2 separate regions of the Homo sapiens genome follow, and region 2 is reported to be linked to region 1. Evidence: microRNA targets listed by miRTarBase, many of them from high-throughput screens and not tested one by one. Region 1 holds a microRNA gene; the other region holds the end of a gene's coding sequence.

Evidence for each region. Region 1 holds the annotated microRNA hsa-miR-3135b (GGCUGGAGCGAGUGCAGUGGUG, at 1,948-1,969, opposite strand). A microRNA usually pairs through its seed, bases 2 to 8, with sites in the 3' UTR of a target mRNA and lowers its output. Matches are read on the target gene's strand: a 7mer-m8 pairs with bases 2 to 8, a 7mer-A1 pairs with bases 2 to 7 and ends in A, and an 8mer does both.
Region 2: the mRNA of UBE2G2 is a reported target of hsa-miR-3135b. Seed matches in the 3' UTR shown: 7mer-m8 at 1,697-1,703 and 7mer-m8 at 2,734-2,740.

What each region holds. Positions count from the first base shown.
Region 1 is chr6:32,748,005-32,753,177 of GRCh38, forward strand. It overlaps MIR3135B (microRNA 3135b), which reads right to left and starts at 1,975; the gene lies at 1,908-1,975.
Region 2 is chr21:44,767,166-44,772,165 of GRCh38, reverse strand. It overlaps UBE2G2 (ubiquitin conjugating enzyme E2 G2), which reads left to right. Exons shown (of 6, transcript NM_003343.6): 6 at 677-3,586. The coding sequence ends at 789. Among named protein-coding and RNA genes, the nearest start is that of UBE2G2, 32 kb to the left of the region's middle. RefSeq lists enhancers at 2,641-3,141, 4,983-5,000 and a silencer at 3,438-3,732.

The DNA.
Region 1 (5,173 bases):
ACACTGGATTCGTGGTCTCCTAATAGAAAATCTCTCAGAGGAAATGGGTCCACAGGGACCTGAGAGCTCTAAACAGCTATGAAATCTGCCAGGATATTTCTGTCCATGCTATCTGCATCAGTGAGTTTAAAATGTAATAGGAGAAAAAAAAGAGACAAAACATTAACATAATAATTGATACAGCATAGTTTTGTACAAAGAAACCTAAATCCAAATACTTGACTCAGTATTTTGAAGCTAGTATTTTAAACTTTACTGGGTAAAGTATCTGATTGACATTTCTGAACCTTATTTTTCTCATCCACAATGTGGGAGTGATAATATTTTCCTTGCAGAGTTATTGACAGAATTTGAATAATCTTGGTATATAGACAGTGCCTTACACGTAGTATATAAATATATAAGAAAACACTGCAGTTATGTTTATAATGGATTTATTAAAAAGAATGGATCATATTATATGAAAAGTACATTTGTTTTCCTTAGCCCTTTAGTGATTTAGGAGATTCAAGCGTAGACGTAAAAGTGAGTTTCTTTTCATATGTTAACTGGAGGATTTTTTTCTTTCTTGAGAGGCTGAGATTGGGTTGCTAAGAGAACTCTTAGGACAAGAAGTTGTAATATTTGACTTCGGTTTTTAACTCTCTAAGGGGTATATTCCCTCCTTATGTCCCATAAATTTTAAGTCAAGGTGAATTATATGCAACAGCAGTTTATCCATATTTACTTTGGGGAGGAGGTGGGGAGACTCCGGGAGAAAATAATTATAAATGCAGACTGGGAATTAGTAAGTGCAGGGAATCTGAACCAGTGGTGATCATGAAAACGTCCATCACAGAACACAGAGGATTTTTAGGGCAATGAAACTACTCTATTTGATACCACAATGGTGAATAAATATCATTATGCGCTTGCCCAAATCCATAGAATGTACAACACCAAGAATGAACCTTAATATAAACTATGGACTTTGGGTGATAATGATGTGTCAGTGTAAGTTCATAAGTTGTAGCAAATGTACCTCTGTCATGAAGGATGTTACTAGTGGGGGAGGCTATGCATGTGTGGGAACAGAGAGCATATGGGATACATCTATCTGTACTCTACAATTTTTCTGGGAACCTAAAACTTCTCTAAAATAAACTCTATTAAAAAAAAAGAAAAGAAAAGGTCAACAATAATGATCCCAAATATATAAAATTAAAACTGTAGTATAAAAATGGTCACATGAAAATGCATGAATGTGCTAAGAACTTTTCTGCAATAGGATTTAAAATAAATTTTATATAAATTTCAATGATTCATGAGCCAAGAACCCAGCATTCTGGAGGTGTGTGCATTTGTGTGTGTGTGTGTGTGTGTGTGTGTGTGTGTGTGTGTGTAAGGCTTACATTGAATGGCATTATAACCAGAGTCATACAGAAATACACAAATGCTCCCCTATTTAGAATCCTTCCCCAAGAAATACTGAGGAAAGCAAATATAATGGTAGTTGGATTTTACTGAAAGAATGTATTCAAAAAGTATTTATATAATGTTAAAATAGCATAGCTAAAATTAGTTTTATAAAATAGAGCAAATATATCTTTTTATCAGCTAAAAGTTCAAAGTGAAATCATCATTATTATATTATTATATTATTATTATAAACAGTTATAAATCAGGCTGCATGATTTTAAATTAAATGATTCTTAAAAATTGTTATCTGAATTATTTCAGATTACATACATAAAGTATGACTTCATTAATAGGTAATATCACATTGTTTAAATTTTACAAAATTTCCAGTCACAATGGTTCATGCCTGTAATCTCAGCACAAGGTGAGGGTCCCTTAAAGCCCAGGAGATGGAGACCAGTCTGTAGTCCCAGCTAGTAGGGAGGCTGAGGCAGGAGGATTGCTGCTTGAGCCCAGGAGTTCGAGGCTGCAGTGAGCTAGGACTGACTGCACCACTGCACTCGCTCCAGCCTGGGCAACACAGCGAGACCCCGTCTCTAAAAATAAATAAATAAATGAATAAATAAATAAAAATTACAAAACGTAAAAATCACGTAAAATATTTCAGGTTTGTACTTACCACATACAAACTAGAGATATGAAGAATTAAACATTACAAATAAAGCACTTCACACACAGTCTGGCCCATAGTAAGCAGTTTATAGAAGTTAACAAATTTGTGTTATTGTTATTTTCTGGAGTCCAAGACAAAATCCCATGATGAATGACACCACAAGGATGTAAGCAACAAAATTCAGAATATGAGAAGTTCTACTAGATTAAATAAAAAGATTTCTCCAGCAAACAATTTGCAAAAAAAGTTAAAAATAGAGAAAAGAAAAGCTATACACTTGAAAAAGACTGAAGAAATATAGTAACCAAACGCTGAGCTTTGTCTAGATTCATATTCAAACAAAACATCTGTTAAAAAATTTATATGAGGCAATCAGAAAAATTGACACTGAGTGTATTAAGGAATTATTTATCTCGTTTTAAATGTGTTAGTGGCATTGCTGTTATGTTTCTAAAAAGCCATTATATTTTAGATTTTCATAATAAAAATGTATAAATGAAATATGATACCTAAAAATATCTTCAAAATAATCCAGTATGTGCCTGTATGATAACTGGGTGGGTTTACAAAATTGCTCATGAATTGATTATTGTTAAAGCAAGGCTGTTGATACATGGAATTCTTCTCTGTACTATTGCACACAGTTGAAATTTTCTGTAATACAAAGGTTTTTTTTTTAAATGTATTCAGGAAAGTCCCATAAACATAGGCAGACAAGCATTCTGTTTGAAGTTATGTTAGTTTTTCAGTTTTTCTCATTTTTATCACATTTAGGAAACCCTGTCCAAGGCCTGCCCAAGACTGTAAGAACCTCTCAGGAATGCAACTATAAAGAATGTGTATGCAGGAACTAATAATAACAAAGGAAAGCAAAGTAATGCTTGCTTTATTATTGGCTGGACTAAGCCCCCAGACTTGTTTATATATTCACTAATTCATCAAAAATGCAAAAATGGTCATTGAGTACCAGTGCTACAATAAGTACTCATAGTTTGTTGAATGTTATTAAAATAATGTGAAAACAATTACATTCATTATCTTCATAGAACTTACACTCCAGTGGGAGGAAAATACATATATTACATAATTCCACAAACATAGTTACAAGGTCTGAAACATTTATAAAGAAAAAGAATGAGGTAAAATGAGAGAGTGTTGCACAGGGACCAGGTATGGTTTGGGGCAGTTTAGAAGTGGCTTGAAGAAATGTATCTTGAGATGAAATAAGGTGGTATACAGTAGGTAAAGGACAAGGTTGAAGAGGCCAGAGCAAATGTTTGAGAAACTCTTACAATATGAAAGAGAAGATGAGAATAAAATAACATGAAAATTATCACAGATTTAATAGAGAAAGTTCATGTAACAGCAAACAAGTTTAAAGTCATTCTAATTAGAATTCTTGATCTGTAAAAGTAATAATAGAATGCTAAAAACAATTGGAAAATTTAATAGAAAGATTGGAAAATTAAATCAAGAAAATCTCACAGTAATTTAAAAGGCAAAAAAAAAATGTAATATATGGTAGAAAAAATAAGATGGAGAACAGACCAAGGAAGTCAAACATCAAGTGACAAAGCTAGAGAGACCAACAGGGAAGATGAAGGGAGAAAATGATCAGAACAAATAATAAGGGAAAATGTTCCAGATATAAAGGATTTAATTCTTCCATGGAATAGTCTTGTCAGGTATTTAGCAAAATTAACAGACTCACTTCTAAATATCTCATTTTCAAAATTTCAGAACTTCAGGTGTTATAGAAAAGTCATAAAATATTCCAGTGGCGGAAACCAAAATGAAACAAACTGACAACAAAAAAAATACTTCTATTATTAAGATAATGAGAAAGTCCTTGAAGTTCTAAAGGAAAATTATTTTTTATTAATAAATGTAGATCTTTTCAAAGTCACAATCAGGCATGGAGAAAGAATAAAAATACCTGTGAATGTGAAAGAACATAAAATTTACCTACCACGCAGAGTTTTACTAGAAATTGACTAAGGATATGACCAATTGAGATTGTTAATCAGGATATAGGAAGGTAAGGAATCCAGGAAACTGGGTCTAACCCAGGATCTCACTGAAAACGGATCCTACTACAGCAGTTTCTTGGCAAGCAAAGAATACCTGACTACATAAGTGATATTTAGAAAGTGATAAACTTTTTTTTTTCAAATTTAGAATTAATCTGTGAGCAAAGCCCAAGGAATCTTATTGCTACAGCAGAATGTCAATATTTTCAGCTTTGACAATATTGGGGGGAAAAAAAAGATGTAGATACTTCATTATGGCAACTGGAAGTGTAAAGGAGAGGGGAAAGGGAGGGTGAAAATGCCAATAACTTCATCTTCCAAGAAGGAGGGGAAGAGGCATTGCCCATACTTACAGAAGTCACAAAGATCAATATATTTAAATTACAATCACAACTGGAAAAAGTATGTAAAATGACTCATGAATTAGAGCAAGGTTTTAGAAATTGGACTATTATTTCAGTTACAAAAAAAATGGACTGTTATTCTTCGGCCTAAGCTATTCAGAAGCTGCAAGAGCCCCTCAGAGTCGGCCCAAATTAGAGCAGGTTGTATACTCCTATACTGACCAATCATTATAGGCGAGTTCCTCCTGGGAAGTGGATCAAAATCCGATGAGGCAGCTTTCATCACCTAAGGCAATTCCGGGGCGTGACTGAAAGCTGAGGGCAGTCAGCCAGCAACATTCCCAGCAATGACAGAATAAATCGTTCAGTCTCAAAGGGAGGAGTTTAGGTACAGTGGAACAGCACTGACGGCAGAAACACTGTTCTAGTTCCTGGGAGTACATATACATTCATGTGGAAGAAAACAAACAGATAAAATTCAGCATCTATTTAAAAATTAAAAATAAAACTACCACATGATCCAGCAGTTCCACTTCTGGGTACATATGCAAAGAAAATGAAATCTGTATCAAAGAGATATCTGCACTCCCGTGTTTATTGCAGCACTATTCACAATGGCCAAGAGATGGAATCAACCTAACTATCCATCAGCAGATGAATGGATAAAAAAAATGTGGTGCATATACACAATGGAATACTATTCAGCCGTATAAAAGAAGGAAATCTTG
Region 2 (5,000 bases), not on the chromosome of region 1:
TTCTGAGCAGCGCCACCGCCGCACTGCACAGCTGCTGCCTCAGCACATGTCATCCAGTTCTGGTGGTCTCTCTCCGTTCTGCCTTCCGGCAGGCCCTGGCTACTCCCTCCGTGCCTCCTAACTGCAGTTCTGCAGTGACTGCCAGTGCCGCTGGCTAGGGGGTGGGTCAGGTATCCTGGGGTCAGGTGTCTACCTTAGGCTGCACATTTGCTTGGGATTGTCTTGGTAGGAGCTGTGAGGGGCAGTTTTGCTGAGAGGGCGCTCTGTGAGAGAGAAGCCACACTGCAGAGTGTCTTGAGAAAGGTGAAATAAGCAGCAGGTGGTCCCCGTGTAGCTTGTCCGGGTGCCAGAAGTGCAGTGGCCCAGGAGGCTGCTGTGGGAGGCCGTGTGGGCCTGTGCTTAGGTGGTTGTCGCATGTTCCACAGCAAGACAGATGACAACTTGTCCTGGTGTCTTCAGACACTCAGAACGCAGGAGTCATGAGAGTGGCTTTCGTTGAGACCTGCGTGGCCAGCACTCTAGAGGTGGGGCCGACCCCATGCAGTTCTCAGGTTCTTTGTTTCTGGGACACAGCTCTTGAAAGCCCCCGCCAGTGTTTTAAATAAATGGGAGACCTTGCCAGGCTGCTTACGTATAAGACTCCCTTTTACATGGAGGGTGTTCCCTTTTCTTTCAGAGCCCAATGACGAAAGTGGAGCTAACGTGGATGCGTCCAAAATGTGGCGCGATGACCGGGAGCAGTTCTATAAGATTGCCAAGCAGATCGTCCAGAAGTCTCTGGGACTGTGAGACCTGGCCTCGCACAGGCGCGCACACACCGCCAAGCAGCTCAGCATTCTCCCCCGGCACACTTAGTGACAGTGATGCTCTGTGCTGGTACCAAACAAGGCAGACTTGCAAGAACCATGGCATCTTTTTTTTTTTTCAAACCTTTCCTACTTCAAACAGGCTTCTCTTCTGAAATGATGACTTAATGTCGAATATTGACAGCTTACTGCAGTTTTACAGTATTCCTCACAAAGGGCTTCAGGTAGATTATCAGAGCTGTCAGCACTACCTCTCCCCGCTGAAACCAGCAGTTCATGGCTTCCTGTGGATTCCCTCCCTCCCTGGAGTGTTGAGGGGGTTGTACCTGCCAGACTTCCAGGGGACGATGGAATACCCAGAACGCTCCTTCTGAAGAAATGGGGCCCTGTAGCTGCAGCACAGGGGAAGGGCCCGGCACCCTTTCTGGGTCCTTCCTGGTTCCCTGTGGGCCCCATGAGGAGTCCATTACTTCCTTTCTTCCTTCATATTTTACAGGCAGATGCTTTTCTTATAATCTAATTACATCTTTTCATTTGTTATATATTACAAACCATCACACTTAGAAATACTTCCAGGAAATGCTTTTTTGAAGTGTGAATTAATAAGAAATGGGGTAAATAGAAAAGAAATTTATTGCTGATTGGCCAGGTGCGGTGGTTCGTGCCTGTAATCCCAGCTCTTTGGGAGGCCAAGGCAGGTAGATCACAAGGTCAGGAAATTGAGACCATCCTGGCTAATACAGTGAAACCCCATGTCTGCTAAAATTACAAAAAATTAGCTGGGCGTGGTGGTGCACGCCTGTAGTCTCAGCTACTCAGGAGGCTGAGGCAGGAGAATCGCTTGAACCCGGGAGGCAGAGGTAGCAGTGAGCTGAAGTCCCGCCACTGCACTCCAGCCTGGGCAACAGAGCGAGACTCAGTCTCAAAAAGAAAAAAGAAATTTATTGCTGATCACAAGGACAGACAGTTTTTTCCCGACCATACTCATCAAAGATTTACGTTTGTATATTAGTAACTAGTGCATTACTAGAGCAGGTGCAGGTGAGGTCTTTAAAGTTTCAATGAAAGTTTCTTCTGGATCTACAGAAAAAATTTTTTTTTTTCAATCTAAAAACTGGAAATTCTAGGGTTTTTGTACATTTTGGATGCACTGGGAATTTATTAGCACAAAATCATTCTTTGCAACTCAAAATTCAGAAGGGACTCTACCATATCTTAGCTCAGAGCACAGAGGAGTGCCTTATCCCCACACTTGACTGGGCTGTGGAGGTGGGCATGTGGGCCCCTGGGCCCAGGCTGGGGACAGAGCCCTTGTTTTGTGACTTAGGATTTTGATGTGGTTCCCATGTTCTCTAACAGGGCCAGCTGAGCAGCACAGGCCAGGAGGCCACAGTGTAAGCAATAACAGATCTGCCACATGCAGAAGCAAATATCAGGCCTGTCGCACACGGGCGGCATTTAAATAGGAATTTCTATTTTTGAAATAAGGGATGGTCTATGAGGCATACAGTAGATTTGATGTGATCCTTTTCTCCCTCCCTTCCATAATGGATCGTGGTCTGTGTGACTGAACCCACACAGAGTGTCATGGGTGACAGTTTCTGGTTGAAGTAGCTCCACGCCTGGCTTCTGTGGACAGCAGATTCTTTTCCTTCTCACAAGGGGCTCATTTAAAATTTGGAGGCTGGGTGCTGTGGCTCACGCCTGCAATCCCAGCACTTTGGGAGACTGAGGCGGGCGGATCATGAGGTCAGGAGATCGCGACCATCCTGGCTAACAGTGAAACCCTGTCTCCACTAAAAATACAAAAAATTAGCCGGGCGTGGTGGCGGGCGCCTGTAGTCCCAGCTACTCTGAAGACTGAGGCAGGAGAATGGCGTGAACCCAGGAGGCGGAGCTTGCAGTGAGCTGAGATCACGCCACTGCACTCCAGCCTGGGCAACAGAGTGAGACTCTGTCTCAAAAAAAAAAAAAAAAAAAATGGAACGCAGGGCAAGAACTCGTATTTGGAAGGAGATGGGGGAAAGGAGCGGTATTATACCTATGTTGTATTTGCAGGCAAATGAGATGGAGCCCTCTCTGTAAAGAAGAGTCATTTGTGCAAGTAGACGGGGTCTGTGGGTGCAGGCCCTGGAGGGGCACACAATTGCCTGGAGGCTTCTGTGAGATCGGGAGAGGGAGGAGAGGCAGTCTCTTGACAAAATAAAGTATTTTTATTCATTTGTATTTATTAAATGAAAAAACAATCCCATGGTGTCCCTGTTGTGTGGTGGAACCTAATGACTGTTGAAATAAAGTTCTGTGTTTTCCCTGCCCTGCAGTGTGTGTCCCTTTGTCGTATTGTCAGAGGAGCCTGTGGCCACTGCCCCCAGGGAGCACACCAGATCATCCCAGCTGGGATTCCTCACGGTGGGGGCTTTTCTGCAGACTTGGGTTAGCTCTGGCATGTTTTCTTCTGTTTCTGATCTCCCTTCTGTCATTCTGTGGTCTTCCTCTGGAATTCTCAGGTTAGTTGGGGTCTGTGAGACGGATGTGTTCACTAACCTATAAATGACATTTTGCAGCTTTTTCAGCAGATGCCATTGTGTGAGTGGCACATTTGACCACTAGAAGCCAGCAGGCTGTTCCGACTGCGCTTCCCTCCTGCAGTTGCTTAGAAGCACAGCTCCCTGTCATCACTCCTCTGTGGTCCTCTGTGGTCACGGTTGGTTGCGATGAGACCTGCCTCTGCGTCTTGTTACTTAGCATGTCAATAAAGAGGCAGATTCCTGTGTCAGTGATTTGCTGTTTCTGTTTTGGTAGTTGGCGGTCAGCTTTCCTTTGTAATCCTGTGAGGCAGGGTCCCCAGGCTTCCCCAGGTGCTGGCGCCTCGTTCCCTGGGCTGGTTCCCAGGCTGCTCCTGGTGGGGTGCACTGGGCGAGTGCCTCAGCACAGGCCCCCAGGCATGTCTGTTCTGCCCTTTGCCCAGTGTTCTCACTAAGCATTCTTTTTAATGGGTAAGAACTCTAATGTGATACTGAGTTGGGGTCCCCAAGACCACCCAGGGCGGCGATTCTCCAGGAGGACAGAGGCCATGCAGGTCACGGTAGTCACGGCTGTGATTTCCCACAGGGAGGACACTGAGCAAAATCGGCCAAGGGAAAGGTTCCTGGGGCCGAGTCCAGGGGCACCATGCTCAGCTTTGGAGGCCTCTCCTGGGGTGGGGGTCACGCAGGATGCGCCTCACTCCCCTGCAAGCAGCTGGGACTCTGCGTGTGCGATGTTGGGGATGCCCTGCCTGGTGATGTACCCGGGGGCTGGTCACGTGAGCAGCTTCTGCCTGGGCTGCGCTACAATTCCAGACTCTCAGCAGGGATGTGAGTGTTCTGCCTAAACCACCTTGTACAAATAGCACAGGCCCAGTGAGGCGGGGTTCAGGGAGCCCCTCGGAAATCCCAGTTCCCAGACGCCAGCCAAGGGCCAGCCCGGCCAGCGGGCCTCAGGACGGCCGTCCCCACTGTATGGACCCTTTCTGCGCAGATAACCTTGGGGGTTGACAGTGATTTTTACCATTTCATTTGCTCTGTGTTTCTGGGTTTTGTCTGCTGGCACTGGTTTGCCACAGTTGTTTGCCTGTCTGGCTGAGTGCCGTCCTTGCTTTTCCCATGCAACTGTCTGCTTCCTGGGATGGGGAGGGCTGCTGGGGTGGCCAGGGAAGCTCTAGGGTCTCATCTTCTGGGTGTTGGGGCTTTTCACCCTTCCTGGGGGTTAGCGGCCCCAGTTCACTGCTTGGGCCACAGCAAGGGTGGCGTCCACAGCTCTGACTCTCACTTCTGGGATTGCTGCACCTGCTGGGGCTTCTCCAGTCCAGTCTCTGTGTAGATGAGGTTGCTAATTTTTCAGAGGAGTGCTGTTCTGTACCAGTTTCTTCATAGGATATGGAACTGCTCCAGCTGCACAGAAAGGCACCCCAGGGCAGCCCCAGCTTCCCTCCCCTGGGCGTGCCTTGCACCGTGGCCCCCTGAGCTGACAAGGTTTCTGCAGGCTGGAATTTGTGCTGGAGGCGAGGGCCCTGGGGATGCTACCTGGACACAAGGAGGGGACAGGAAACAGGTACAAAAATTCGGGGCTGCCAAGGGGCAGTGAACACACTAAGGACAGGTGGATTCTGGAAACCCTGCCCTGGAGGGGACCGCGGGGCCGCTTGGGGTGGGG